4 linked regions of the Homo sapiens genome follow. The protein of the gene in region 1 interacts with the protein of each later gene in a pairwise test. Each region holds a gene or a part of one and is shown on either strand. Other genes may lie near its edges.

Region 1 (7,755 bases):
AAATAGAACTACCACACAGCCCAGCAATCTCTCTTCTGGAATATAAGCAAAGGAGATGAAATCACTACCTCGTAAAAATATCTGCACTTCCATGTTCATTGCAGCATTATTCACAATAGCCAAGATTTGAAAACAACCTACGTGTATGTAGACAGACAAAATAAAGAAACCGTAGTGTATATATACAAGGGAATATTTTATTCAGCCTTAAAAGAGGACATCTGCCATTTGCCACAACATGGATGGACCTGGAAGACATGTTAAGTAAAATAAGCCAAACGCAGAAAGACGAATACTACATGAGCTCACTTATATGTGGAATCTTTAAAAAAAAAAAAAAAAGGTCAACGGTCAACTACACAGGGACAGAGAATAAAACAGTAGTTACCATGGCGGTGGGGGTGGGAGGCTGGAGGGGAGGAAATAGGAAGATATACATCAAAGGACACAAAGCAGTAGATATATGGATTAACAAGTGAGATATCTAATGTACAAGAGGACTATAGGCAATAAAGTTGCATGGTATTAGGGACTTTTGTAAATAAGATTTTAGCTGCCTCTGGTCACACACACACAAAAGTATGTGAGATGACAGATATATTAATCTGCTTCACCATAGTAATCATTTTACTATATGTATGCCATAACATCATGTTATGAACCTCAAATATACACAATGAAATTTATTTAAAAAGAACCTGAACAAAAAACCCACAAAAACATTGAGTAAAATATATATTAAATATAACTAACCTCATGCCTATTTCTTGATCACATGCTCTGCACATGTGTGAGAAATTAAATGCTTACTGCTGTAAAAAAAAAAGTTCTAATATTTTCTTTTGGTACTTAAATGGATCATCTTTTAGCAGGCCTCATTTTGGTTATTACTGAGCTATACAACTCTCATTTAATATACATAAGCTCCCTTAAACTGTTTCCTACTAGTAAATTTTTAGAGAAATTTATTGTGTAATCCTCATGAAGAGTATGAGTGTCTGCAGTGGAGAATCTACAAAAAATACAAAGAGTCACTAATTGGCCAATTCTTTTGTGCACCCTAAAAAAAGCACTTGACTTTGGTGTTTCTATGGTGAGTAAAAAAGTATGTTTTAGGAATGCAACTTTCAGATTATCTAACTTGTTAAAGGAACAGAAAGGAAGTGTTAACTGATTGTTTTGTTCTTTACATGACCTCTCTTGAGTATCTATTATCTGGTCTGGCTTTTAAAAAGTTTATTATTGAAAAGATGATATAACACCATAAAAATGTTTTAAAGTAAACAAAATCACCTATAATCCCACCACCCAAATATAACCTTTCTACATATTAATTTCTAGCCCCCACACAATCTATACACAGCATACCTTAATAATTTATGGCTAATTCCTTCTCACTTCTCTCTTTACCTCAAACTTCAAAAATGTGACTACTTTTCTGTGTTGTGACCTCACTAATATGGGACTAAGCATTAAGTCAAAGTGTACATACAAACTTTTGAAAACTAGCAAACTTCCTCTACTGTTTATAGGACATTTTCTCCCTGGATTCCAGCCACAAGAGCTGTTGGTTTTGCTGATGCAAGCCACCTTGGGTAAAATCAGTGGCTTATCCAAGACAAAGCAACTGATGCTATTCAATTGATTTATCCTATGTATCTTTGGGTGTTACTGAGCAGAGATTTGTTAGAAGTGAGGAATGAGAAAGGCTGGAATTAAAGTTGTCCTCACACAAAGGAAAAAGTTCAGGATGAACCTTAATCTGCCTCCATTTATAACACCACCTAGTTTTCCCACTTCATACAAACTTCTGCAGCCAACATTGAGCAGACAGAGCCTACCACATTCCCTTTTGTAGCAAGTAAGACAACAGGAATTCTTTCTCCCACAGTCAAGATTTCACTGCAAATTCCATTAGGAAACCAGAATCAGTCTAGAAGGACTATGCTGTAAGTGTATCTAATAAAAATATGTTGGTATTCTCATAAATGAATAATTAAAAAAAAACCCACATTGAGGCTGGATAAAGAAAATGCGGTACATATACACCATGGAACACTATGCAGCCATAAAAAAGAATGAGATCATGTCCTTTGCAGCAACATGACTGGAGCTGGAAGCCATTATTCTAAGCAAATTAAGACAGGAAAAGAAAACCAAATACTGCACGTTCTCATAAGTGGGAACTAAACAACAAGAACAGATGGACACTAGGAGAGGAACAACAGACAGTGCGGTCTACTTGAGGGTGGAGGCTGGGAGGAGGGAGAGAATCAGAAAAAACGCCTATCGGGTACTATGCTTATTACCTGGGTGACAAAATTACCTGTACGCCAAGCCCCCGTGACATGCAGTTTACCTATATAACAAACCTGCGCATGTACTCATGAACCTAAAATAAAAGTTAAAAAAAAAAAAAAAAAACTCACAATGACCCTGTCGGAAAGAGAAGGCATCACAGAGCTCCAAAGATCGTGGGCTTTGGAGTCAGTGAGCTTGGTCAAACGTTAGCTTCAATTACATACTAACTTTGTCGCCTAATTCTGTAATCACTCACCCTCAGTTTCAAGTCACTTACCCTCAACTGCATCCTCTTCAAAATTGGGAAATCAAGCAGTTAGAGAAATTAAGAATTCTGACAATGTATGTAAAGCACGTGCACTGAGCCTGGCATACAGTAGGTCTTAACGAATGATAGCTAACTCCCTCACCACTCCCTTGCCTACTGGGGTGGGCCAGAACCACCTGCTCTCTCATACATTCCTTCAACTCAGTCACCAGCCTCTATCTTACTGATTCCCCAAGTGAAGCAATCTCACACCAGGGGACTATTCCCTTCTACTCCTTCATTCATACAGCAAACATTTATTAAGCCCCGACTATGCAGGCCCCCTAGGGAACACGGAGATGAAGGAGACTGCATTCCTGTCCTCAGAAGGCTGACCCTGCGGTAATGAAAGAGACTGCAATATAGACACAGCGAGAGAAAGTGCTAGGATAGGAGCATGAGCTGAAGGCCCACTGACCTATTCCCCATGACCCCGGATCCCTTGTTCCCGAGCGAAAGTTCGGGGCCGGGAGTTTAGACGTCTCAGGCTCCAACCTGCTTTCCCCGCCCCCTTCCCTGAGGCCAGGTCCCCGGGGTCCAGACCTCACGCCCACCCATTCAGCTAGGGCCTTCCCTCAAGCCCTGCTCCAGGCTGGGGCCAGTCCGCCTCGCGGTCCAGGCCCCGCTCAGGGCTACCTGAACTCAGGAGGCTGCAGTGCGTTCAGCGCCGCCTTATCCGGGCGCTCCATGGTGTAGCCGTGCCGGCACAGGCGCTCGGCGGCGGAGCTGGGCTCGGCGGCCGCGCTCAGTAAGCTCCGCGAGGGAACGGCCGAGGCGGTTCGCACCGGAAGTAGCGGTTCGCGCCGGAAGTGCCCGTTCGCGCCGGAAGTGCCCGTTCGCGCCGGGCGGCGGGCCACAGTACGCAGGCGCGGCGCGGCGCGGCGCGCCGCAGCGACGCAGGGCTGTTGCCGGCGCGGGGGCGGGCGCTCACATGACTTACCGGCGGTGGCTCCGCGGCGTGCGCCCTGCCAGGAGGGGCCTGTGCTCGAGGAGCAGGCCTGGCGAGTAGCCCAGCCACTCCACGTTGAGCCGGGACTTGCCGCGCAACATGGTCCTCCTGGGCGGGCGGCGGCTACGCCGCCCCCTGAACTCGCGTGAACACTGGTCCTCGTCTGCGTCTCGGTCGCTGAGCTGGGGGCCGCAAGGAGACCCGAGCATATGAGCCGCGAAGAGGGACTACCAGCCAGAGGGCTGTGGTGCTAGGCAACTGAGCGTATTCCGCCGACGACAACACAAAAAAGCAGTGCGCATTATTTCGCCACTACTTGAGCAAATAAATGCCTCATTAATTACTGCCCGCAGTGGTAGGAAGTCAAGCCCTTGGCAGCTGGGAGGAGTTAAAACACTCACCCGAGTCCGTAAAACTAGAGAATGTCAGAGTTCAAAGAGCTCTTGCTGAGAATGACTGTTCCAGACTCGATGCCAGTGACCCCCAACTTCCACTTAAAAGTTAAAAACATATTTTGCAGCTGCTCAGAAAGCCGCCAATGAGACAACAGGGACTCAAATAGTAAGAACAGATGGGCCTCCCGGGCCTGCGCAACCCGAGAGAGGTAAAAACGAAAGGGTGGGTAAGTCTGGAGTCAGGCTTGACAAAATTAAGTTGCCACTGGCTGCTAATAAGAGGACAGCCCTTAACATGGTCAGCGCCTGGAAAGGGCCGCTGACCACACAGCTATTTTCTGCACCACATGGATACAAAGACCACATCTGAAATCATGACTAAACCAGCAGCTTAGAGTGGTGGAAAGGGCAATGGACTGGGCAGCAGGAAGTCCAGGTTTTAGTTCAAACTGAATAATCCCCCTCTAGGGCTGACTGTGCTGGCTCACGCCTGTAATCTCAACACTTTGGGAAGCTGAGGCAGGAGGATTGCGTGAGGCCAGTAGTTCCAGAGCAGCTTGGGCAGCATAGCAAGACTCCGTCTCTAAAAAACAAACTGTAAAATATTTAATAAAAATAATAGTAATCTCTATCTGGGCCTCATCTAGACCTTTAGGTGAGTAAGAACCACCTAATGTAAGAACTTGGGGTACAAAGAGAATCTAGCTCTGGGGTAGGCAAACTGAGCCAGCCGACCTAATACATGGAGCCTACCACCTGTTTTTCTACAGCCCTGAGGTAAGAATGGTTTTTCCTTTTTAAATTGTTGAAAACGTCAAAAGAATAACATGACACGTGAAATTTATATGAAATTCAAATTTCAGCGTCTATTGATAAAATTTTATTGGAGCTCAGCCATTCTCATTTGTTTGTATTATCTACAACAGCAATGTTGAGTAGTTGTGACAGAGACGGTATGATCTGCAACGCCCAAAATGATCTGCAATGCCCAAAATTCTTACCATCTGACCCTTTTACAGAAGAGTTTGCTGACCCCTGCTCTAGCTAATCAGCCTGCAGTGAGGTCCTTCAATCCCTAGGGACCCATAAATGTAGTAATGGTGGTTCTGAAGGCAGTTTTTAATATTTTTAAAAACCTAATGAATCTATTTACTGTTAGGCATCCAAAGCTACTTAAAATATCACCGTTCTTTGATTTTTGACACTTACTATATCATGATGAGGTTATCCTAGTTATCCCATAAGAAAAGACTGTTCACAGATTATTATGAAAATAAGCCACAGTATACTTAATAGAATAAATCTTTTAAAACATAGAATGAACACAAGTGGGGGAACGGAATTGTGACTTATTGTTCCCCAATACCTAGAGTAGGGCCTGGTATATAGTAGGAACTAATAAATATTTGTTAAATAAATAAATTGGGTCCACAAAAGGAAAAAGAGCAAAATAGTTCTTGATGGTGAAAAAATTGGGAACCAGCTTGGCGTGGTGGCACATGCCTGTAATCCCAGCTACTCAGGAGGCTGAGGCAGAAAATCGCTTGAACTCAGGAGGCGGAGGTTGCAGTGAGCCAAGATCGTGCCACTGCACTGCACTCCAGCCTGGGTGACAGAGTAAGACTCTGTCCACCCCCCCCCAAAAAAACTGGGAACCACTGTTGTTGTAGTTTGCCGGAGCTGCCATAACAAATGCCACAAACTAAGTGGCTCCAACAACAGAAGTTAATCATCTCCCAGTTCAGGAGGTTAGAAGTCTGAGATGGAGATGTTGGCGAGGCTGGTTCCTTCTGAAGGTTGTGAAGGAAGGACTGTTCCAGGCCCCTCTTCTGTTTTCTGGTGGTTTGCTGACAATCTTTGGCATTTCTTGGCTTGTAGAAGCATCACCCTGATCTCTGCATTTTTCTTCAAACGGCCTTCTCCCTGCGTCTGTGTTTCTGTCCAAATTTTCCCTTTTTATAAGGACACCAGTCATAATGCATTAGGGGCCCACCCTACACCTGTATGAACTTAATTATTTACATCTGCAGCGACGCTGTTTCACTCTGGGGTACTGGGGGCTAGGATTTCAGCATATGAATTTGGGGATGGTGTGGGTGACCGGGCCAGCAATTCAACCCATAACAGTAGTCTAAACACTTCCTTGTACAGATGAGAAAACTGCGGCCCAGAGAGGGGACGGGACTTGTGGGAAGTCACACATTTATCTAGTGGGATGTAGCTTGACTCCTGACTCCCAGGCTGGCACTTTTACACTCCCACATTAACAGCCTAAGTTGCACTTGTGTGATAACTTAAACAGGAACCATTCATAAATGAGATTTGCTGTGGGAAAAACTTCTCATGTAATTTACATAGTAGTGTTTTTAAATATAAACAAAAGCTCTCATATCTCTTATTTATTTATTTATTTATTTATTTATTTATTTATTTATTTATTTCGAGACAGAGTCTCGCTCTTTCGCCCAGGCTGGAATGCAGTGGCGCGATCTCCGCTCACTGCAAGCTCTGCCTCCCGGGTTCACGCCATTCTCCTGCCTCAGCCTCCCGAGTAGCTGGGACTACAGGCGCCTGCCACCACGCCCGGCTAATTTTTTGTATTTTTTTTAATAGAGACGGGGGTTTCACCGTGTTAGCCAGGATGGTCTCGATCTCCTGACCTCGTGATCCGCCCGCCTCGGCCTCCCAAAGTGCTGGGATTACAGGCGTGAGCCACCACGCCCTGCCATATCTCTTTTTTATGCTGACTTATACACTCTACCAACATTTACTGTGAGCTTACTGAGGTAGACACAGAACTTTAAAAATAAACTCAGAATCTGTACTAGAAGGAAAGAATCTAGCCAGCAGTCAGCCCTCTCAACAGAGCCCTGAAACCTCCTACCTGCAGTGCTACAAAAGAATTAGAGGCAAGTGGAGCCCACACAGAGCCGTTGCCATGGGAATGAAATGGTGTGTTAGGGGGTGTGGCCACTACAGAGGAAACCATAATAGTGGTTTCCTACCACTGCTGCCCTAAAGCATGTGTCTTGTGCTTCATTTTACTGAGCATATTCACAGTCCCTACAATTTATACCATCCCCACTTCATAAGTGGAAAAACTGAGGCCAGGGAAAATTTCAGAGTCTGGTGAAGGCTTCCCAATGCCCCTTAAAGTCAGAAACTGATTCTCAAACTGAAAGAGCCCCAGTTTGGCACTTTAATTTTAGTTGAGAAAACTGACAGCTAAAGATGGGAAGTGATTTGCCCCAAATTCCCTAGGTCAGTGATAGAATTAGAGAATGTATAGTTCCTAATTCTGTCTCATGTTTTCTCCACCATATTGTTGTAAACTTCTGTACTACTTGTAAGACACGTTTTCTCCACCATATTGTTATAAACTTCTGTACTATTAACCCAGTGACGTGAAAAGTATACACCCAAAGACACGTTTTGCAACCCCAAATTGCTTTACTTACCCGAAAAAACTTCGTTTCTTGAAGTTTCCTTTTGGGTGGCTGGCTGTGGGATTGGATGGAACAACCATATTGAAACACCAACTGATACTTGCCAAGGCCTATACCTGAACAGCACGGTGTTTTTAAAACTAAGACATAAGGAAAATAGAAATAAGCTCCACTGTACAATCAACAAAACTCATATTAAAAAAGAGAGAGAGAAACTCTGGCTTCTTTGTAATGTAGGCTGTGATGTCTTAAAAAAAAAAATTGGTAAAATATGCCCCCTGGTGAAAAAGCATAGTTCCATTTATAGAAAAAAAAATAACTAAGGGGTTATTATAGTTAAAACCTCCATTGTCAACG
Region 2 (4,310 bases), on another chromosome or scaffold:
GTCCTCAGGGTCTCACACCCTCAGTGCTGATGCCATGCCAACTGCCTGGGACAACACCAACACGTAAGGACCTAATTAAACCAAACCAGAGTCGGGTGTAGACCAGCCCTGGGATTTCCAGCTGTGACTGGGCCAGGGCACACGTTGGTCTCGGCAGTGGCTGTAAGGTCACCTTCCTTCCTCTGATGCTGGTTTCAACCATCTATATATGGCATCCACGCATGGGATCTGCAAGCTGGAGCCCTCCTACCCGCAGGCTTGAGCACAGCATCATCCAGCCCTGGGGAGGCGCACCCTTAAGCAACACAGACTGGGCTGAGGCTGACAGGCAGAAGACTAACAGAGCGCAGTCTGCACACGCAGGTTCTGGGCGACCTCTGGCCCTGGCCATCTCTGCACTAACTCATCTGAATTATGAAGGTGGCAGTCTTGGTCAGTAGTTTAAAGAGTTTCCCTACTTTTTAACCCTTTTTGAAATAAAACTTTTACAGGTAGTAGATTCCTATTAATAAAATTATTTAAGTTCATGTTTCTCTTTTAGAGAATGAATTGTTTAAATACAAATATGTGCTTTTTTAAAACCCTTATTTTTAAATATATATATATATTTTAAAAAAACCTTTTAAGTAGGAAACCTCTAAGGTATTTCTGAGCTAAAAAATAGCAGTGCTGGATACACTTTAAAGATCTTTGCAAGACGGTTAGAGTGACTTTGCTTTGGAGACTAGAGGTGCTGGAGAGTAGACCCAGAGCAGGAGGTGGCTGCTGGGAGCCATGATGGACGATGTCCACTCCCCACACAGACATAACATGCCCTTGCTTCTGAGGGACTCTCCTATGGGGAGGTGGCTTGACCCACCCGGTGCCAGGAGGCAGGGAAGGAGGTAGCTTGCAAAGCCCACTTTATTGAGTGCTGGAGCATTTACACAGCGCGGAGGAGGAGATAAGCTGGGGCTGAGCAAACCGCACCCAAGGGGTTAGAGGGATTCTGGGTGAGAGGGATGAGCTCCCAAGGCCTCTGAGGCTTCCACCCACACCCACCCTCACTCCCAGGGTCCAAGAGAGGCCCAGAAGTTGTACAGCAGCATCCAGCAAGGCCCCCTCGCACAGCTTGGACTTACAGGCCACTCACCTCCAACAGGGGAGATAGTCACCCATGTACTGCAAAAACAGGGACTACCGGAAGCAGCCTAGGGCCCAGAAGTGTGGAAGCCTGGAGTAGAGCTGGGTCGGGGGCCAGGCTTGCTGCACTGTGCCGACTGCTCCCAGGGTGACGGCCTGTGCCCAGTGCGGAATATGGCCCATAGAGAGGATGCTGTCAGGCAGAGGCTCTAGCATCTGGCTTTTATTGGTTGCCTTTCTTAAACCCAGCATTTTTTAAAAAGTCACCTGAGGTGGTAGTTTAGTCAGGGCTGGAGAAAGGGGTAGGCCAGTGGTCAGTCGGGAGGAGGGTACCGGTGTGGCATGATGGGTGCTTCACATGTAGTACCAGGCCAAGAGTCCAGCAGCTAGGGCCACACCAGCGGCCAGGATGAACTGGAGGCTGGGCTTCCTCAGCACAGCCATAGCTGTTCGGAAGGGACAGCTGCTGCCCTCCAGGGCACCTGTGTGGCAGCACCAATAGGAGACATGGCATCAGTGGAGTCTCCTGCTACACCTGCCCCAGGAGGGGAGCTCAGGACACACAGACCTACCTTTGTCTTGTTCAGCAGCGTAGAAAGGGCATTTACGCATGTCTCCTTTCCCATCGTGTACAGGGAACCCATCCTCCAAGGTCTCTCTGGCCAGTGTGGAGCCGGCCTGGTCCAGTTCATTGAATATCTGCAGGAGCAGAGGATCGACTGAGCCATCTTTGGGCTGCCCATACTTTTTTTTTTTTTTTAAATGTCTTTTGAGATGAGGTCTCTGTTGCCCAGGCTAGAGTGCAGTGTTATGAACATGGCTAACTCACTGCAGCCTCAAACTCCTAGGCTCAAGTGGTCCTCCCACCTTATCCTCCTACGTGTGTGTACCACCATACCTGGCTAATTTTTAAATTTTGTGGGGAGATGGTGTCTCACCTTGGTTGCCCAGGCTGGTCTTCAACTCCTGGGGTCAAGTAATGCCCCTGCCTCAGCCTCCCAAAGTGCTGGGATTACAGGCATGAGCTACTGCGCCTGGCTACACTCTCCTTTTAGAGGACGCCCTCCAGAGAGAGTGAGCTGGAGCAGGTGAGCTTGCTCAGGTGTGCCAACTACACAGCAAGCAGCACTGGTGGGCGGCAGCTGCACTGCCTGATGGTCTTCCCTCCCTAGCAAGAGCTCTGGGGAGGTGTGGATATTGGTACCCCAAGAAGGCTGCCAAATGCTGGGTCTCCCCTGGGAACTGACCAGAGATGTAGCCTTCTCTGAGGTGGCTCAAGCCACTGAAACTACCACAGCACAGACAGGAGGGCATGAGTACATCCCCATTTCTAGGTGCTGGTTATTTTTTTATCAAGAAGCAACAGAAAACCTGGAACATGGGAGAATGAGACTGTGGCAGGGCATACTCATCCTGAGTGCCCTGGGAGGCCTCAGTGGAAGCTGACAGGACCTGGGGACAGAGTAAGCTTCCCCAGGTTCAGCCTCATCTAAAGGCTACTTGTAAACAGAGCTTATTTACTCTCCTTGGTGGCACTGGCTCTCTATTAACTTATAAAGCAGGGCTTCTCAGAGCAAAACTTGAAAAGAAAATTAACCATTCTTCAAGACCAGCATCCTGCAATGAGGGAGGAAGCCAGCTCCATTCTTCCAGACCCCTCTATGTGCGAGAGGACTCACCCTTCCCAAAACACTACCCACTGGCATCTATCACACCAGGCCTCCATGCTGGGAACCACCCACTGGGCCCACAAGCTCTGGTGGCCAATCTGGTGGCCACCTTCCTCTCGGCACCCTGCAGCTCATCTGTCCTAATGCCATGTGTGCCTTCATGGGCCACTATGGATCTGCTACCACTGTCAAAGTTTCCCTCTTCAGCCCTAGCAGCTGGCAGCCCCCAATAGTACCTGCATGTTATACTCAAAAGCCTTGTTGGCCTCCTCCACGATCCTCTCTTTGGTCTTCATGTTCAGGTCCAGGGCGTTCATCCTGGCCCGGTAGAGCTGCTTGAACTGCTGGGCATTGTCCACATTCTCAAACAGGTAGAACTGGGTCCCTTCCCCTGTGCTGGGGAGTTTCAGTGCTCGCTGGGCCACCTTCTTCAGCACCTGGCCCCCCGAGAGATCCCCCATGTAGCGGGTGTATGCATGGGCCACCAGTAGCTCCGGCTCGTTCTGCCCTATGTAGTGGATCCGCTCCACGTACTTCTGGGCAGCCTTGGGGCACTGCACCTGCTCCTCCCAGTTTTCACCAAAGAAATACTCCATGTCCTTGGTCAGCGCCTCCTTCCGGTGCAGCTCCATGGGGAAGTACAAAGGGGCAAAGGCTGGATGGTCCTTGTTGCGCTCCATTTCCTCCTCGAGGGCTGAGTATGTGAAGTAAAGTGCCGTGGTGGCCAGCTGTGGAGGTGACAGGAGGAGGCCAGCTATGCCTGAGCACACCACATCCGAGCAGCTGGATGCAGAGGCTCAAGTGACAACCCCCAACCCCAAAGACCCAATCCTATGGTCCATTTTTATGTAGTGAATTATTTAACACACAAGGAAGCTTTTGTTTCTTAAAGGAATGGCATGGTGAAGTCTTTGGAACACGCATACTTTTGCTTCCTTCACACCACTATGTTATTCTATCTAAGCCATGAGAACCAATTTTTTTTTTTTTTGGCGGGGTAAAGAGTCTCGCTCTGTCACCCAGGCTGGAGTACAGTGGGACGATCTCGGCTCACTGTAACCTCCGCCTCCCAGGTTCAAGTGACTCTCCCACCTCAGCCTCCCAAGTAGCTGGGAGTACAGGCACGCGCCACCACACCCGGCTAATTTTTGTATTCTTAGTAGAGACAGGGTTTCACCATGTTGGCCAGGCTGGTCTCAAACTCCTGGCCTCAAGTGATCCACCTGCCTCGGCCTCCCAAAGTGCTGGGATTACAGACATGAGCCACTGTACCCAGCCGAGAGCCAGAGCTTAACGTCAAGAAGGAATGGAGTGTGGAGAAAAGCCCAGCTTTTCCCTCAGAGTGGCTCCAGGGGCACTTTTCTCATGGGACCAAGGCCCCCACCCCAACCCCATATGACAGTCTGGAACCCAATGCGGGGCACAAACCTTAAACAGCTCCTTCTTAATGTTGCCTTTCAAGAAGTCCTTGACAAACTGGGTGTTTTCTGCCCGGTCGTGTGCTTCCTTGGTCCCTTC
Region 3 (3,473 bases), on another chromosome or scaffold:
AAGTGAAAAGGTTTCCTCTTAGTCCTGGATTCATCTTGACAAGCCACAGTATTAGCAGGAAAAAAAAAAGATGCTGATTATCAGTTATAAACAGTGAGTGAGAGCCAAGATCCCACAATGACCTTTTGTCCCCTTGTCACTCCAGTGGTCATAAGTGAATGAGGCAATGAATGGGTCACACTTTTGACCCAATTTATTATTTTCTTTTATAAACTCTTCTTTTTTAATGCAAAGGCCCCCATGTGGCTAGTAAGTGGCAGAGCTGGGACCCTCTGCTGGCCTGCCCTTTCATGGTGGCTGGAACTGCAGTGTGGGAGTGATAGGGGCTGAGGCGGGAAAGGTGGTTGGGGCCAGTTGATGCAGAGTCTTCGAAGCTGGGTGAAGAACCCTGGGCTGGGTGCACTGGCTCAACGCCTGTAATCCCAGCACTTTGGGAGGCCGAGGTGGGAGGATCACCTGAGGTCAGGAGTTCGAGACCAGCCTGGCCAACATGGCGAAACCCCGTCTCTACTAAAAATACAAAAATTAGCCAGTTGTGGTGGCGCATGCCTGTGATCCCAGCTACTTGGGAGACTGAGGCAGGAGAATCACTTGAACCTGGGAGGCAGAAGTTGCAGCAAGCCGAGATCATTCCACTGCATTCCAGCCTGGGCAACAGAGCAAGACTCTGTCTCCAAAAAAAAAAAAAAAAAAAAAAAGAACCTAGGACCTTCAGGGCCAGGGCAGCCCCTGAAGATTTATTTTTATTTTTTAGAGACAGGGTCTTGCTCTGGTCATTGAGGTGGAGTGTAGTAGCATCATCATAGCTCACTGTAGCCTTCCTCTGGGCTCAAGTGATCCTCCTGCCTCAGCCTCTCAAAGTGCTGGGATTACAGGCATAAGCCACTGTACCTGACCGATTTTTTTTTTTTTTTTTTTAAGACAGGGTCTCGCTCTGTTGCCCAGGCTGGAGTGCAGTGGTGCAATTTTGGCTCACTGCAACCTCCACCTCCTGAGCTCAAGATCCTCCTGCCTCAGCCTCCTGAGTAGCTGGGACTAAAGGCACGTGCCACCACTCCCAGCTAATATTTGTATTGTGTAGAGGCAGGGTTTTATCACGTTGCCCGGGCAGGTCTCAAACTCCTGGGCTCAAGCGATCCGCCCTCCCAAAGTGCTGGGATTACAGGCATGAGCCACCACACCCAGCCTTTGTAATGTTTTTTGAGCCACTTAGTCTTCATGCTTATTGATCATTTAGATATCCCAAGCATATCATTGTTTCAGCTCGTGGGAGGCAGTTTGAAGTGGCTGATAACAGACTTATTTATTTTAGTTTAGTTTTTTATATTTACTGAGCATTTCCCATTTAAGGGCTTTATGTATGCCGTCTTTTAAAATGTTTACAACAACCCGTGATTAGGTTTTATTATTACCCAACTCTCCAGGTGAGGAAACTCAGGCTTACGGAGGTTAAGTGCCTCTCATGAGCCCAGGTCACAGCTACTCAGGGGTGGACACAGGTCACAAACCCAGGTGGTCTGACTCCAACTCTTGACTGTCATGTTTCAGATCAGGAGCCACTAGCCCTGCCCGAGGGGTCCGGGTAGGCTTCTTGGAGGATCGGCCATAGGGGTCATACTGGGGTGGCTGGAGGGGGTTGTGTCCTTCTGGGTGCTCATGGCGGTTGTCCTGTTGCAGGTGCCCTGCTGCAGGAGGAGAGGCTGGACGCGGTGACCCTGCTTTACGCCACCTCGCTGCCCAGCTTCTGCCTGCTGGCGGGTGCAGCCCTGGTGCTGGAGGCTGGCGTTGCCCCACCGCCCACTGCTGGCGACTCTCGCCTCTGGGCCTGCATCCTGCTCAGCTGCCTCCTGTCTGTTCTCTATAACCTGGCCAGCTTCTCCCTGCTGGCCCTCACCTCTGCCCTCACCGTCCACGTCCTGGGCAACCTCACCGTGGTGGGCAACCTCATCCTGTCCCGGCTGTTGTTTGGCAGCCGCCTCAGTGCCCTCAGCTACGTGGGCATCGCACTCACTCTTTCAGGAATGTTCCTTTACCACAACTGCGAGTTCGTGGCCTCCTGGGCTGCCCGTCGGGGGCTGTGGCGGAGGGACCAGCCCAGCAAGGGTCTTTGAGACCTGGGGGATCTCAGGAGCCACCTGGGATGGCCCTGGCCTGAATCCAGCCTCCGCTGTGGCCATAGAAGGAATGGAGAACAGGGCTGGGCATGGTGGCTCACGCCTATAATCCCAGCACTTCCAGAGTCCGAGGTGGGTGGATCACCTGAGGCCAGGAGTTCGAGACCAGCCTGGCTAACATGGCAAAACCTCATCTCTACTAAAAATAGAAAAATTAGCTGGGCATGGTGGCGCGTGCCTATAGTCCCAGCTACATGGGAGGCTAAGGTGGGAGGATCACTTGAGCCCTGGAGATCGAGGCTGCAGTAAGCCAAGATCGCATGCTACTGCACTCCAGCCTGGGAGACAGAGCGAGACGCTGTCTCAATTAAAAAAAAAAAAAAGTGGAGAACTGGCAGTGACCTCTACTGGGGGCCATGGCAGGGAGGGGAGCCTTCTGGAAGGGCTGCCTTGGAGATTGGAATGGGGACTCCCAGGGAGACCTGCGTTCCATCCCTGCCTGCCTCACCCCTGCCACAGACTCTGCACACCACTGGATGGTGGGTCCAAGCCTGGCACAGTCCCTGTGCTTGTCAGAGTCATTATTATGATTAATATCAATTACGATGCCAAAAATTGCTGGGCAAACTTTGAAGACCTCAACTTGTTACAATGACGATGATGATGATTCTTGGCGGTTACACAATCCTTCCTCCTGGGGGGGAGGCAGCTAGGAGGCCCAGCAGGGGGGCTTCTATGCTGCTGGGCTCCCCTAGGGAGTTGGGGTAGTCTGTGCCAACTCCAGGCAGCTGCTGTGGCCTCACCCCTGGGCCCCCCAATTTTGGGTCATCCATCCTCAAATACACTATTTTTGCTTGTATGCCTGTGTCATTTGTTGGTTGTACAGAGGGGATATAGGGAGAGTGGTAGGCTTCCCACACAGAAACTAGGACATCCTCCCTTACCCATCGCAGTCTGTCTGGCCCCCCACCCCGAGCCCAGTGCCATTCCCTCAAATCCCTCCACTGGCTGGGCTACCATTGCCCATCTTCTGGACAGTGGCAGTGGCCTCCCCCTTGCTCTGCCTGGCCCCTCTACTCCATCTTACACACAGACCCCTTCACCCAGAGGGATCTCACTAAAACGTGCACATTCTGATGTTCCTCACTGCTCTTGGGACAAAGTCAGAATTTCCTACCCCAGACCCCAACTCACTCAGGACGTGGCACCTGCAGCCTCACCCAGCTTGTCTCCCTTCCCCTGGGCTCTGCCTTCCAGCCTCACCGACTTCTTTCAGTTCCCCGTGATACCAGGCCTGCTCACTGAAACCTTTGTACATGCTGTTCCCTCCGTCCAGTCCCCGCTTCCTACAACAACCTC
Region 4 (7,860 bases), on another chromosome or scaffold:
GGCCTCCCAAAGTGCTGGGATTACCGGCATGAGCCACCGCGCCTGGCCAAAATCCACACGATGTTTCAAAGACTTAATCTAAGAAAAAGGAATGTAAAATATCTCAATAGTTTTTAATATTAGTTTTACATTGAAATTATAATATTTTACATAATGGGTTAAATAAACATCTTACTAAAATTAATTTCTTATGTTTCTTTTTACTTTTTAACATGTGCCTACTGGAAAATTTAAAGTTACATACGTGGCTGCTGTTGCGTTTCTATGGCAGTCCTGGGCTAGAGTTTTCTTATCCTTCTCTATGCTGTATGTGTTACCTTTTTAAAAATTAAAAGCTAATAAGTAAATAGGATAAATTATCAGAGGAAACACAGCAGCGTTTTGAAAATGACAGATAAAAGGAGAAAAACAAACACTCACAGAACAGGAATCCCTCTCCGCCTGCTTTCTCCACGCCTGCCTGCTGCGATTTCAAAACCCTGAGATCTTGCTAAGTAAAAATCTAATAGGCCTTTCTTTTTAAACTTTATTATTACGGAGAATTTTGAACCATCACAGAGCAGACAGCATAATATCATGAAATGCCATGTGTCCACCACCCATAACCAAGAACCACCAACCTCTGAAATCCTGCTCCCCCTCCCCCCAACTGCAACTACTCCTGCAATTGTGGAGCAAATTCCAGACACCATATTCCTAATAAGCTTTTTGTTTTAAAATTATGGTCCTAGTAGGCTTTTAAATCAAGCTGAATTTGTGAGGCATAAGGAAAGGGTTAAGAACTGTATTCTTCTCTTTTCTTCAATAGTTATCGCTTGTACAAAATGGGCCCCAAGAACACCGGGACCCTCTCAACACCCCAGAAGCCACCAGCATTTGTGTTTCCTTCCCACTGTTAGCGGGGGGTATGCTGTCGCCACACCAGAGCATAAAAGCCCTGGGCTCAGAGGCCAAGTTGTCGCCTTGCTCCCTCTCTCTCCAAGGCCTCTCCCACAGCACACGCTGAGAGGAAGCCCCTGGCTGGTTCCGAGCCCAGATGTTCAGGTAAGCTGCAAACTCAAGGAGTGACCTTGGGGTCACCTGCTTGCTTTCCTTTTGCTTCTGCCTATTTGGTGCACTGAAAAAACAGTGGTCCAAAATTATAATTTCTAGGGGTGATCATGGTATTGTAGTTATGGGGTTGCTTCTGCTTTTTCCCCAAAGAGTCCCTTATCTTTTAGAGAGATGTACTGAGATATTTATGGATGATGTCTGGGATTTGCTTCAAAATAATCCAGATGGGGGATGGGCTGAGGGTAGAACTGAAACGAGACTGGCTGGGGTAATGGACTCAGGGCTCAGGGGATTCAGGATACCATGCTTTCTCCTTTTGTCCACGTGTGCAATTTTCCAAAAGCGTTTCAAGGAGTAAACGCCCTTTTTCTGTTGTCTTATACTGAAGGACCCTGGAGAGGGCTGATACTCTTCTCCATCACAGAGGAGACACTCTGGGAAAACTATTGGAGGAAACCAGATGGTCTCAAGCAGTCTCTCCTGTAGCCTCTGATTCACATCTTTTAAAAGGAACTCATAGGAAAAATAACGTTGGGGAGTATAATTGTAAACTGAGGTCCTAGCAGTCCTACCAGCAGCTGATTCGCCAAACATCTCTTGGAGCAACCATTCCCAAACTTGCCTGGCCATATGGGTCCCCAGAGCCCTCACTGAAAATCAGACTCCAGGCCCCTCACCCAGCCCTGCCGACACCCTCTCTAGGAGAGGGGCTGGGACCTCTGCCTTTCACATGAACACATGGGAATGCTCCCCCTGAGGAAACATCGATGGGGGTGTGGGGTCTTCTAGTAAACAGAAATACGGGCCGGGCGTGGCATCTCACGCCTATAATCCCAGCACTTTGGGAGGCTGAGGCAGGCGGATCACCTGAGGTTGGGAGTTCAAGACCAGCCTGACCAACATGGAGAAACCCCGTCTCTACTAAAAATACAAAATTAGCCGGGTGTGGTGGTGCAGGCCGGTAATCCCAGCTACTTGGGAGGCTAAGGCAGGAGAATCGCTTGAAACCAGGAGGCAGAGGTTGCGGTGAGCTGAGATCGCACCATTGCACTCCAACCTGGGCAACAAGAGCGAAACTCCATCTCAAAAAAAAAAAAGAGAAATAGGAGCAGCACATCCCACACTGGATAAGACCATGGTGTCAAGTCATCTCATGAGGGAGAAGCCACCCAAGTCAGTGAACATCGTGTGGGCTGTGGTGGAGGAGCCCAGAGTGGAGGTGCCAGGGCAAGGGCCCTAGAGCAGCGTCTCTGGGAGAAGCTTCCTACTCCAGGCCCAGCTTTACCTAGAGACTGCATGGCCTCCTCGCTCTGCTGGACCTGCTGGGCCATCATCCTGCTGATCCCCATGAGGCTCTCAGTGATGGTACTGGATGTCTGGGCCAGGCTCTCTTTGGTGGTTTTCCTAAAAGTTCAGAGGAAGAGAAAGGGGAGGAATGTCAACAAAAGCCTCCCTGCAAGAAGGCCCCACATCCAAATGAGATCTCATGTTTTACCTATCCAATTAGTATACATATTTTAAATGATCACATTCAATGCTGGAAAGGGTGTGCTGAGACCCACGCCCCTGTGGACTGCTAGTAGGAACATAAACCAGTGCTGCCTTCTGTAAAGCAATTTGCCAATTGAAGAGCCTTGGTAATGTTCATTCCTTTGACTCAATCATCTCATCCCTGGAAATCCCTCCAAAGGAAACATCCAAAATGTGGATAAAGCCTTATGTTCTAAGACATGCCCTGGTGTATTACTTACACTACTTAAACACTAGAAATGCAAACACACACAGGGAATTGTATTAACATACAATCTACATACTATGTACTGTTAGAATTAGGCTTAAAAAGCTTTTTTTTTTTTTTTAATGAACAACTTTTGTGCTGAAACAGCAGAATATGAAATTTTATGTATGGTACAATTTTGACTTTGTAAGAAATGTAGAAATAAAAATGAGGGAGAGAATATACCAAAATGTTCATGAGTAATAAGATTTGATATTTTCGGCCGGGCATGGTGGCTCACGCCTATAATCCTAGCACTTTGGGAGGCTGGGGTGGGTGGATCACCAGAAGTCAGGAGTTCAAGACCAGCCTGGCCAACGTGGTTAAACCCCGTCTCTACTAAAAATACAAAAAATTAGCTGGGTGCAGTGGCACGCAACTGTAATCCCAGATACTTTGGAGGCTGAGGCAGGAGAATCACTTGAACCCAGGAGGCGGAGGTTGCGGTGAGCCAAGAGGGCACCACTGCACTCCAGCCTGGGCTACAAGAGTGAGACTTCATCTCAGAAAAAAAAAAAAATTCAATATTTTAATTTTGTAATTCATACTTTATTTTACCAATTTACTACAAATAAGTATGCATTTTTTTCAAACTTAAAAAAATTACTTATGTAATTAAATTAAGCACCAAGCTGAAAACAAGAGGGGGTTTCCTACACCTTGCCAATTGTTATCTATTATTATCGGAGCCCAGAAAAATAAAAGAATAGGTACCTTTGCCTTAAGAGATCTCCTCCCTGAAGAAGTTCTGCTTTCTCTAGATTGTCGATTGCAATTTTGCAGGTGAGATTAGCTTTCCTCCATGAGGCCTGATTGCTGGAATTGGAAGGTTCACGTGTGAGTGTGTCCACTCCACCAAGCCATAAGTCAGTTCAATTCACAGCACTTCCCCCCAACAAAGGCACACGGGAGAAGGCCACCAGGCACGGCCTTCAGAGCCCATCCCACCTCCTGCCACTTCCGCCTCCTGGTTCCCCAGCAACTGTTCTTGCTCAGGTCCTGATACCCCTTGACCGGACCCTGGAGGTCGCCACGGGGAGGCTCTGTTGCTGTCACTCTGCCCCCGTCAGCCCAAGGGGCTGTGAACATGGCACTCCTCTGTGCACAGCTCCACAATGGCTGGACTTCAGGGAGGCATCCAAACTTCCCAGCTGGTCACACAAGGCCCCTCTTCAGTCCAGTTGCCTCTAAGGCTGTACTGCTATGGCCTGTGTATTAATTGGTACCATCCCCGGAGAACCATGACTTACTCATCTCCAGTATCTTGAACAACCATTTCTGGCCCTTCAGCTGCTGAGTTAATATACTTTGTAGGAAATAAAAAATCGTGGCCAGGCACAGTGGTTCACACCTGTAATCATAGCACTTTAGGAGGCCGAGGTGGGGGGATCACTTGAGCCCAGGAGTTCAAGACCAGCCTGGGCAACATGGAGAAACCCCGTCTCTACTAAAAATACAAAAAATTAGCCAGGCATGGTGGTGGCGCATGCCTGTGGTTCCAGCTACCCAGGAGGCGGAGGAGCGAAGATCACCTGAGCCTGGGAAGTGGAGGTTGCAGTGAGCCGTGATAGTACCACTATACTCCAGCCTGGGTGACAGAGTAAGACCTTCTCTCAAGAAAAAAAAAAAAAAACACACACACACACACAAAAAGCCAATCTTTCAAAATATTTCTTCAAGGTTTGTTGTTCTTTCCATACTACAGACCAATCATGAATGACACAAACATGATGGATTAGCAGAGCCCTGACTGACACGGCGGATCTACAGTCTTCACCTGCGCTAACTTGTGGGTGATAACGGAAAGTTGGTGAACAGCTTCCTGGAGTTAGAAATGTGACAGTTGACCGGGCGTGGTGGCTCACATCTGTAATCCCAACACTTTGAGAGGCCGAGGCGGGTGGGTCACTTGAGGTCAGGAGTTCGAGACCAGCCTGGCCAACATGTTAAAACCCTGTCTCTACTAAAAATACAAAAATTAGCTGGACATGATGGCGAGTGCCTGTAATCCCAGCTACTCGGGAGTCTGAGGCAGGAAAATCACTTGAATCTAGGAGGCAGAGGTTGCAGTGAGCCAAGATCACGCCACTGCACTCCAGCCTGGGCAATGAGAGTAAGACTCCGTCTCAAAAAAAAAAAGAAATGTTGACAGTTGTTGATAGACTATAAAAAAGCTAACTGCGTCTCTCTAAGAATCAAACTCATACTTCAGAACTCTTATGTAGCCAGCTCAAACCAATTGTGCTAATCTCTGGAAATACTCAAAAATCAAAACACAGAGTACATGAACTGACAGGGTGGTTTTCTAATAGCACCTTTATGCTGAAGGTCTTAATGAGCACCTGCTCCGCCATTTCACACCTGCCACTTTAAAGAATCCATTACATTTTGAAACAGTTTGCAAGGGGGTTCTGCAGGACCCTGGGATCCAGAGATGAATGAGGGGCAGTACTTCTCCTCAACCACCTCACATTCATTTGGGAAAAAGACAAGCAAACAGATACTCACTGTATGGTGTGACAAGCATGATGACCCAAGCAAGCACAACTACTGCTTCAACTGCCAAAGTTGGTTTTTTTTGTTTTTTTTGTTTTTTTTTTGAGACAGGGTCGGCTGGGCACGGTGCCTCACGCCTGTAATCCCAGCACTTTGGGAGGCTGAGACCGGCGGATCATGAGGGTCAGGTGATCGAGACCGTCCTGGCTAACACGGAGAAACCCCATCTCTACTAAAAATATAAAAAATGAGCCAGGCGTGGTGGCGGGTGCCTGTAGTCCCAGCTACTCGGAGAGGCTGAGGCAGGAGAATGGCGTGAACCCGGGAGGTGGAGCTTGCAGTGAGCCGAGATTGCGCCACTGCACTCCAGCCTGGGTGACAGAGTGAGACTCTGTCTCAAAAAAAAAAAAAAACAAAAGAAAAGAGGCAGGGTCTCGTTCTGTCTCCTAGGCCAGGTGCAGTCACATGATCACGGCTCACTGCAGCCTTGACCTCCCGAGCCCACTGCCCTCCTGCCTTGGCCTCCCAAGTAGTTGAGACTACAGGCACACATCAGCATGCCCCCAGCTAATTTTTTTTTTTTTTAATAGATGAGGTTTTGCTTTGTTGCCCAGGATGGTCTTAAACTCCTGGGCTCAAGCAGTCCTCCTGCCTCGGCCCCCGAAGTGCTGGGATTATAGGTGTGAGCTACTGCACATAGCCCCAAAGTATAAATTGACAGCTTTCTCTGCTCTGGCCTGTAATGCTACATTGTGGATGGCCATTCCCAGCTTTAAACCCATGCTAAGCTGAGTGTGTCTGGCATAACTTACCATACTTTATACAAGGGCTCCTCTGTACTCAGTGTTTATAATCTGAGTAGGCTTGGTGGCTCAGGAAAGCAAAAGCCATCATAACATAAAGTATTCGTGAAATAGCCAAGCCCTGGATCACTGCCCACCACTCATACAGCCCTCCCTGCTTACACTGGCCTCCCTGTGCCTGTGTTTTTGCCAGTCGGTGTCTTCCTGACAGCTGACTGTTACATACACAGCTGCTTGCAGGGAAGATGATGCTGGCAAATTGCTCAAATCAGAAGCAAAGCCACAAATACAGATCTGGCAGAGGCAGACCAGTGAACAAGAGACAAAGAGAAAACCCATGGGAATGACAACTTAGCAGGGGTTTCAAAAGAGAATGATTTAGCCAGGCACGGTGGAGTGTGCTGTAGTCCCAACTACTTGGGAAGCTGAGGTGAGAGGATCGCTTGAGCCCAGGAGTTCCTGAGGCTGCAGTAAGCTATGACTGTACTCCAGACTGGGCAACAGAGAAGGACCTCATTTCCAAAATTTTTTAATTTTTTAAAAATAAAAATATTTTTTTTTTGTTTTTAAGGTGGAGTCTCACTCTGTCACCCAGGCTGGAGTGCAGCAATCTCGGCTCACTGCAACCTCTGCCTCCCGGGCTCAAGCGATTCTCCTGCCTCAGCCTCCCGAGTAGCTGGGATTACAGGTGTGTGCCACCACACCCGGCTAATTTTTGTATTTTTAGTAGAGAGGGGTTTCACCATGTTGGTCAAGCTGGTCTCGAACTCCTGACCTCATGATCTGCCCACCTCGGCCTCCCAAAGCGCTGGGATTCCAGGCGTGAGCCGCCGCACTGGGCCAAAAATGTATTTTTAAAAAAGAGAGAGAATGATCTGAATACCTCAAATATGTTTGGAAAAACCCTCTTTATGATTGGTACAAAAGTCAAATGTGAAGGGAAAGATACTGTTTCATGTTGTCTGACAATTTCATTGGAAAAGTTAAACCTCTCCCAATTCAATAACAAGAAATGGCATATAACTGTAACTATATAATCAAGGATTAGCACACACCTGCAATTACAACCTCGATTTTGGTTTTAATTTTTGACCTCAATTTTGTTTAATTTACGGTTTTTCTTGCATTTTATTTTATTTTATTTTTAGACAGCATCCCACTCAAAACCTTCTAAATTTTGGTCCACCTTCAGCAGGTTTTCTTTCTGTAGATTTTTTCTGGTACCAATTATCCTTAGATAAAAAATGACCCTGTATTACAAAAGCAATCATATTTTTTGATTAAAAATATACAATACAGTATAATGTTAAATATGCTTTTGTAAACTATGTTCAGCTCCACCTGCTCAGATAGGCCCTATTTATCCCTTCCCCACTCGCCCCCACTTGACTATTGCTGACTGAGAGAGAACATTCCACCAGTGTGTAACTGATGCAATTGGCTGGGCGTGGTTGCTCACACCTGTAATCCCAGCACTTTGGGAAGCCAAGGTGGGTGAATCACATGAGGCCAGTGTTAGAGACCAGCCTGGCCAACACAGCGAAACTCTGTCTCTAGTAAAAATACAAAAATTAGCCAGGCGTGATGGTGGGCGCCTGTAATCCCAGCTACTCAGGAGGCTGAGGCAGAAGAATTGCTTGAACTCGGGAGGCAGAGGTCACAGTGAGCCAAGATCAGGCCACTGCACTCCAGCCTGGGCAATAGAGCGAGACACCGTCTCTCAAAAAAAAA

Evidence for each region.
Region 2: the proteins of VMA21 (region 1) and HMOX2 interact in binary tests that used the Homo sapiens proteins (3 or more experiments, as listed by UniProt).
Region 3: the proteins of VMA21 (region 1) and SLC35E4 interact in binary tests that used the Homo sapiens proteins (3 or more experiments, as listed by UniProt).
Region 4: the proteins of VMA21 (region 1) and BNIP1 interact in binary tests that used the Homo sapiens proteins (3 or more experiments, as listed by UniProt).

The regions. Positions count from the first base shown.
Region 1 is NC_000023.11:151,392,851-151,400,605, reverse strand, and holds the start of VMA21 (vacuolar ATPase assembly integral membrane protein VMA21), read right to left. Parts: upstream 3,401-7,755; 5' UTR 3,298-3,400; coding exon 3,245-3,297; intron 1-3,244. UniProt on the Homo sapiens protein: Required for the assembly of the V0 complex of the vacuolar ATPase (V-ATPase) in the endoplasmic reticulum.
Region 2 is NC_000016.10:4,506,923-4,511,232, reverse strand, and holds the end of HMOX2 (heme oxygenase 2), read right to left. Parts: coding exon 4,221-4,310; intron 3,521-4,220; coding exon 3,029-3,520; intron 1,822-3,028; coding exon 1,695-1,821; intron 1,605-1,694; coding exon 1,477-1,604; 3' UTR 886-1,476; downstream 1-885.
Region 3 is NC_000022.11:30,644,921-30,648,393, forward strand, and holds the end of SLC35E4 (solute carrier family 35 member E4), read left to right. Parts: intron 1-1,677; coding exon 1,678-2,111; 3' UTR 2,112-2,973; downstream 2,974-3,473. UniProt on the Homo sapiens protein: Putative transporter.
Region 4 is NC_000005.10:173,154,530-173,162,389, reverse strand, and holds part of BNIP1 (vesicle transport protein SEC20), read right to left. Parts: intron 3,647-7,860; coding exon 3,545-3,646; intron 2,458-3,544; coding exon 2,339-2,457; intron 318-2,338; coding exon of another isoform or gene 245-317; intron 79-244; coding exon of another isoform or gene 66-78; exon of another isoform or gene 30-65; intron 1-29. UniProt on the Homo sapiens protein: As part of a SNARE complex may be involved in endoplasmic reticulum membranes fusion and be required for the maintenance of endoplasmic reticulum organization. Also plays a role in apoptosis.